Regions from separate parts of the Homo sapiens genome. Here region 2 is linked to region 1. The links come from fine-mapping of genetic effects on gene expression. A gene starts in region 1. The other region holds a variant in brackets. All regions are shown on one strand. Distances are between the middles of the regions.

The links. PIP is the estimated chance that this variant, and not a neighbour inherited with it, causes the effect.
Region 2: its variant is fine-mapped to the expression of TEX30 in cerebellar hemisphere (GTEx, PIP 0.95).

Annotation. Positions count from the first base shown.
Region 1 is chr13:102,772,489-102,775,402 of GRCh38, reverse strand. TEX30 (testis expressed 30) reads left to right here and starts at 1,617. Exons shown (of 6, transcript NM_138779.5): 1 at 1,617-1,721. RefSeq lists enhancers at 507-1,184, 1,185-1,862 and a silencer at 1,445-1,784.
Region 2 is chr13:102,697,933-102,700,846 of GRCh38, reverse strand. It overlaps a transcript of METTL21C not described here. Among named protein-coding and RNA genes, the nearest start is that of METTL21C, 4.3 kb to the right of the region's middle. The variant C/G (reference allele first, on the strand shown) is at 1,645.

The sequences.
Region 1 (2,914 bases):
AGGGGTGGGTTATTCACGAATTTTCTAGAAAAGGGGTGGGGAGTTCCCCGGAACTGAGAATTCTTCCGTTTTTAAACCATATAAGGTAAGGTCTGGGCATTGCCATGGCATTCGTAAACTGTCAGAGTGCTGGTGGAAGTGTTGTAGCATGTTCATGTATTATAATTAGTGTATAATGAGCAGTGAGGGCACTAGAGGTCACTTTGGTCACCATCCTGGTTTTAGCTGGCTTGGGCCTGTTTCTTTAGGGCAGTTTTGGCCGTTTTTTTAGGGCATCCTGTTCTGACCAGATCCTGTTTTGCTCAGCAGGTGGTGATCAGTGCTTGGAAAGTCCTGCTGATCTCCTACCTCAACTATAACTGTGCAAATACTTTTCAGGGGGATAATGGAAATGTTCTTAAATTATAGTGATGGTTGCAAATGGTTTTAAAATTACTGAAAATGATTGAATGGTACACTTCAAATGAGTGAATTTTATGGCATGTAAAGAAATGTTTTTTAAAAACACAGCTAAAAAATTAGGAGACAAAGAAGTATTAAGACTTTGTAATTTGGGGAAACACTTGTGATAAATGACAGCGACTATGTGGTTTTGTGGAATGTATTTCCTTGTATGTACCGTGACAGAAAAGAGGGCAGGTGCCAACTGCACTGGGCTTGGGGAAGATTCATTCATTTAAGAAATTTTTTTTTTTCTGAGCATTATTCATACACAAGAGGTTCACGGTTAAAACAAAAATTTACAAAAAGCAACCCTTTCTTCACCTGGGAGCTTATAGCGCAGTGAGGAGACACAGATACATCCATAGCTCGTGAGGTGACCGGGGAAGGACAGGAAGAGCGGGGAGGTGATCAGGGGAGGCCTCGCTGTGAAAACCACGCGCCCTGTCGACCCCGAGGAGACGCGGCCCACGCTGGGAGGGAGCAGCCAGGACAAAAGCCGGTCGTCGTGGGGTCCCGCCTGGTGAGTGGGGGTGAGGACAGCGAAGTGTGGGCTGCCCTGGGCTTCCAGGGAAAGGAGCCAGATGGAGAGGGGAGATGTGGGGGACCGATCGCGTGCAACAGCCTAGGCCACTGCCGGCCGCTGGCTGTGGCAATGAGCGCGGAGCCTTTGGAAGATCCAGGGGACAGGCTTCCACAGCATCCACGTGGCTGCGGCGTCGCCGACAAGGCCCAGGCGGGGGCAAGATGGTACGAAGCGACCATTTAAGTGATTGTTACAATCATCCCCGCAAAGATAACAGGGGGCTTGACCCCATGTAGAAGTGTGCGAAGCGGCTGGTTTCTGTCAGCGTTTGACCTTAACGGGAGTAACGAATCGACTATGGGTGTGAGGAAGACTGGTCAGAGCTGATCGCGCCTCGGAATGGAGTGGTGGCTGGGATGCGGAAAGGCCCCGAGTGGAGCAATCCTGGGTGAGGCGGAAACGGGGGCTGACTTTCCAGCCGTCCGCGTGCTACTGAGGCGGCGGCCACCCTGGCACCTTCCCCTAGCTCCGCTAGTCCGCGCGTACAGCCCTGGGATGTGGCGGGCTGGGAGACCCACGCTCCCGGCGTGCTCTGCGGCCCGGCCCGCGCACCCGGGGGGCGTGGCCTGCGCGCGCGTGCGTCGTAGCCGAACGCTGTGGCGGGGCAGGCGAGGCGGTCGCTTCGAGCGCGCTAGTCAGCTCCCTGAAGGGAGTGACGGCGGTTGGGTGCCCGCGGCCACTTTTGCCTTCCCGGGTAAGTGCGGCGGTGGCGGTTGGCGCCGCCGGCTGACGGGCGGCTTCCTGGGAGACGGGGAGAGCACCCGGCAGGCCCGCCTGAGACGTTTGAGGCTCGCGGGCGTCACTCCTCAGGGGCGTCTGGTCCGAGCCGGGAGGCGTTCCGCTAAGTTCGGTGCCCGCGGGCACCAGCCGGTGGGGGCTTCGTCCGCTTTGCCGGGTAGGAGGGCGGAATGTGGGGTTGGTACGGGCGGGGAGAGCCGGACGGGGCCAACCTGGACCACGTCAGCCAGTCCCGGGTGACTGGCTCGAAGTAGCCTCGGAGTTGAGAGGGGTCGACCGGGGCAGCCCGCGGCGCAGCCCCGGCAGCGCGCATTTGCGGAGAGAACGGATCCCGTGCCCCGAGCGCCGCCGAGCCCCGCACGCCCGTGAGACCCGCTTTGAATTTTCTCTCCATGTTTGCTGGGGTTGTTGACCCGACCCCCCGTAAGACTCGGACTCAACGTTTTTGTTTGCCCCACGACAGCCAGCTTAATGCTGTGGACGTAACAGGGCACGAACGTTTGTAACTGAAAGTTGAAGGGGCTGTGGCGTCTCCGTCCCGTGGCGTGGGAGGTGATCGCCCAGCCCTTGTGAGTAGTTGTCGTCCTAGAACTCCGCCGACCGCCTAGCCGGTGGAGCCGGCGCTCCGGACGCCACTAGAGCTGGCGTTTCGTGGGCGCAGCACCTCTAGCCGGTCATCTTCACCATCGCCATTGAGGGCACTGAGGCCGGGCCAGGCTTCAAACCCTGCCCTCTCTGAACCTGAAGCCAGAGATGAAAACCCAGACGACAGTGGCCTGGCACGGTGGCTCACGCCTGACCCCAGCACCATGGGAGGCCGAGGCGGGTGGATCACCTGAGGTCAGGAGTTCAAAACCAGCCTGGCCAACATGGTGAAACCCCGTCTCTACTAAAATTAGCTGGGCGCGGTGGCGGACGCCTGTAATCTCAGCTACTCGGGAGGCTGAGGCTGGAGAATCTCTTGAACCCGGGAGGCAGAGGCTGCAGTGAGCCGAGATCGCGCCGCTGCACTCCTGCCTGGGGGACAGAGCAAGACTCTGTCTCAAAAAAACAAACCCAGATGACCTAGAGCAGGTTGCTTGGGGATTGCATTATGGGGCATTTTCCGTGTTTCTGAAGAAAACCAGCATGTGTGCAGCTGCCGTGAAG
Region 2 (2,914 bases), 75 kb after region 1:
TCATGGGGCAGCCTCTCCTGCTGCTTCCCAGGCCTCACAGTAAAACAGGAACCGAGGCATCCTTGCCCCTCCTCAGCTTCAAAGCTGAATCACTGTGAAGATATGGTGTTTCCACACTGATACATTTATTTCACTTCATTTATCTGAGGATTAAAGTGAGCTGCAGAAAGGTATCATTTATTAAAGTGGAAAATAGAATAAATGTCGTTGCCAGAGTATCCCTTATTTCAAGCACATTTTCAGTGTCAGACTTTCTCATCCAAACTTGTTTCCCAAGCACAGCGTTCCTCCGTGTAATTAATATCACATGCTTATAGCTCAGCTGCAAAGCATTCTTGGCTATTTTGATAACATGAAACCTGGCAGTTACCCGTTGTGATTTACACATAGTTGCAGTTGGAGATTTTTCTAAAATTACAATAAAATTTCTTTGAGGGGAAATCTGTTTTAAGGACTGGATTGGGGAAAGAAAATAAAAAATAGAAGCGAACAACTAAGTATGTCTATTCTCCAAAGTGCATATAAGTCTATCAAGGCAACACACTGGCCTTTGATCAGAGCCACTTTACAAGGCAGGTGATTTATGGACAGCCAGGCCATCCCCTGCAGTGAAGCCTGGGGCTCGAATGCTTAGGGACAGGCATGTGCTATTTTTAAAATAAAAAGACTATAACTTCACTGCTGTTTCCAAACCTATTGGATTATTTTACTGCTATGCTTTATTTCCTTCTTCACTGGTAATGTTGGTCATCTAAGATGAAACAGAAGTAATATTTTCCATGTTCGCAAGTCTGACAAATTTTAGTTTACAAAATTCCTTTCTCTGCAGGTGGAGATTTGACACTGTACCTGAGTGGGTATAGGATTTAATTGTTACCAGAGCCAAATCCAAAGCAGGAAGAATCCTGTCTTAAAATCCTGAAGCACAGGTGTTCTAAGTGGCCTCAGTCTTTGCATCCCATATAGAAGCAGCTGGCAGTCACAGCGGCTGCTCTCAGGGGACTCCCCCAGAAGTCTGGCCAGTGCAGGGCTGGGTCGGGGGGGTATTGCAGCAGCCCTGGACCATTTGACAGACAGGATTCTGACATTTGGGCCACTGTGTTACCAGCTAATTGAGGGACCAGAAGTTATGAAATTGCATGATTTCACTTTGACCTTTTCTCCATTACTCACTGGAAATCACACACATTGAATGTCGGTGGTTCCAGGGTTCTTGAAGAAGGTCTGTGTCTCCAATGAAACCCTCACTTCTCTGGGAGGGAATTCCCACTGAGTCTCCCTTATAAGTAGGCATGGTGGGTATGTCTTGCATTTGCCTGATCAGTATCTCATCCTTTGTGGACCTTTTAGGAAAGATCAATGTGGAAATCAATGAGTCTCCTATTCATATTCTGGGATGGGAACAGGAATAGCAGCCCAGGGCGAGCTGTGGTGAAACAGCCAATCAAGTTATTGTCAGTGGTCCCCTGGGATCATGTGCCTGTTATGGAAGAAGCAACGGAGCCAGGGAAGAAATGGACATCATCTAGAGGTTTGGACTTGGGAAGTGCAACTCCATTGCCTTTAGTTGCAATAGCTGGAGGAGACTTCAGGTTATTTTCCACTGTAGAAAGGGTGGGTCTCCACTGTGAAGTTGTATTTATG[C/G]AAATAAGGAAGTATGTATGCACTGGGTGAGAAGAAGGGTAGGAGGGCTATTATAACCCTTGCTTTTTATGGGTTATGGCCCTGCATCCCTTCTTTGAGTTGCCAGCCTGCTCTTCGTGGTTTGGTGCAAGGCTTCCCACAACCCAGCCCTGACTATAGGGGTGAACTTAAGACTAAGAGCACTCGGAATCTTTTTCCCTAGACATTGAATCTTGACCATAGATACACAGTGATGGATGGTGACTGCAGTTGTGACCTTCAATGGCAATGTTTAAACAGAAGGTCCATGAACTCCTGCTGCTGATATCTCTGGAACCAGAGCAGCCCTGGACCCTTTATATCTCAAGGCCGATGTGTTATAGGACCAACAGGTTCATATGCCCACTGTGTAGTAACAGGCCAATGCACTGAGACAGCCAGGAGGCAGCAGAGAAAGAGTTTAATGATTGCAGGGCTCCTAGTGAGGAGATGGGAGAAGACCCTCAAATCCATCTCCCCGAGAGTTCTGAGTTGGGGTTTTAAAGGGGATCTTGGAGGATGAGGGGCTGGAAAATTGGGGTCATTGATTGGTCAGGGTGAGGAGGATGAAATTATCAGGATGTGGAGCCTGTGTGCTTTGGTGAGTCAGCTTCTTGGGGGGTCCTTCAGACCTGCTGATGTGGGTGGTTTTAGTGGCATGTAGGACGTGAAAGAATATCTCAAAGGAAAACAACATTTCATAAGGTTCTAGTTGTTATCTCTAGAGCAGATAAGGGGATCTATAATCTTGTAACAGGGTCTATCTGATTCTAAGACAACAGACAAACAACAACAAGGAAGTGCGTCAGAGAACAGGCCGACCTCATGATCCATGCTGCGTGTGCTGCAAGCTCATTTTAGTCTCATTTCTCTCCCTCCCTTCTTCCCTGATGAATAAAGTTTATTGGGATGGTTTCAGATGCTCAGCTTTTCCATATGATTAGGTGAGTGATCCAGAACCCTTCCAAAGAACCCTGTGGACTCAACCCTCTGTTTGAACAACATACAAGATAATATGAGACATTTATTTATCGAGGACCCTCTGAGCACCTGGCACTGTGCCAGATTCTTTCAGATATATAAAATTTCACTTGCTCCTGTTGATTCTGGAAAGGAGCAACGGCATCTTATGAAGCTGTAGCAGATACTGTCCTGGCCTCGCTCATGTGTGTCAGATGTGTTGGAGTGCCCTGGCTGCTGCTCTGCATGTGTAGCTGAGGTCCTGCTGGAAAAATACCACCGGAGCTCTCTG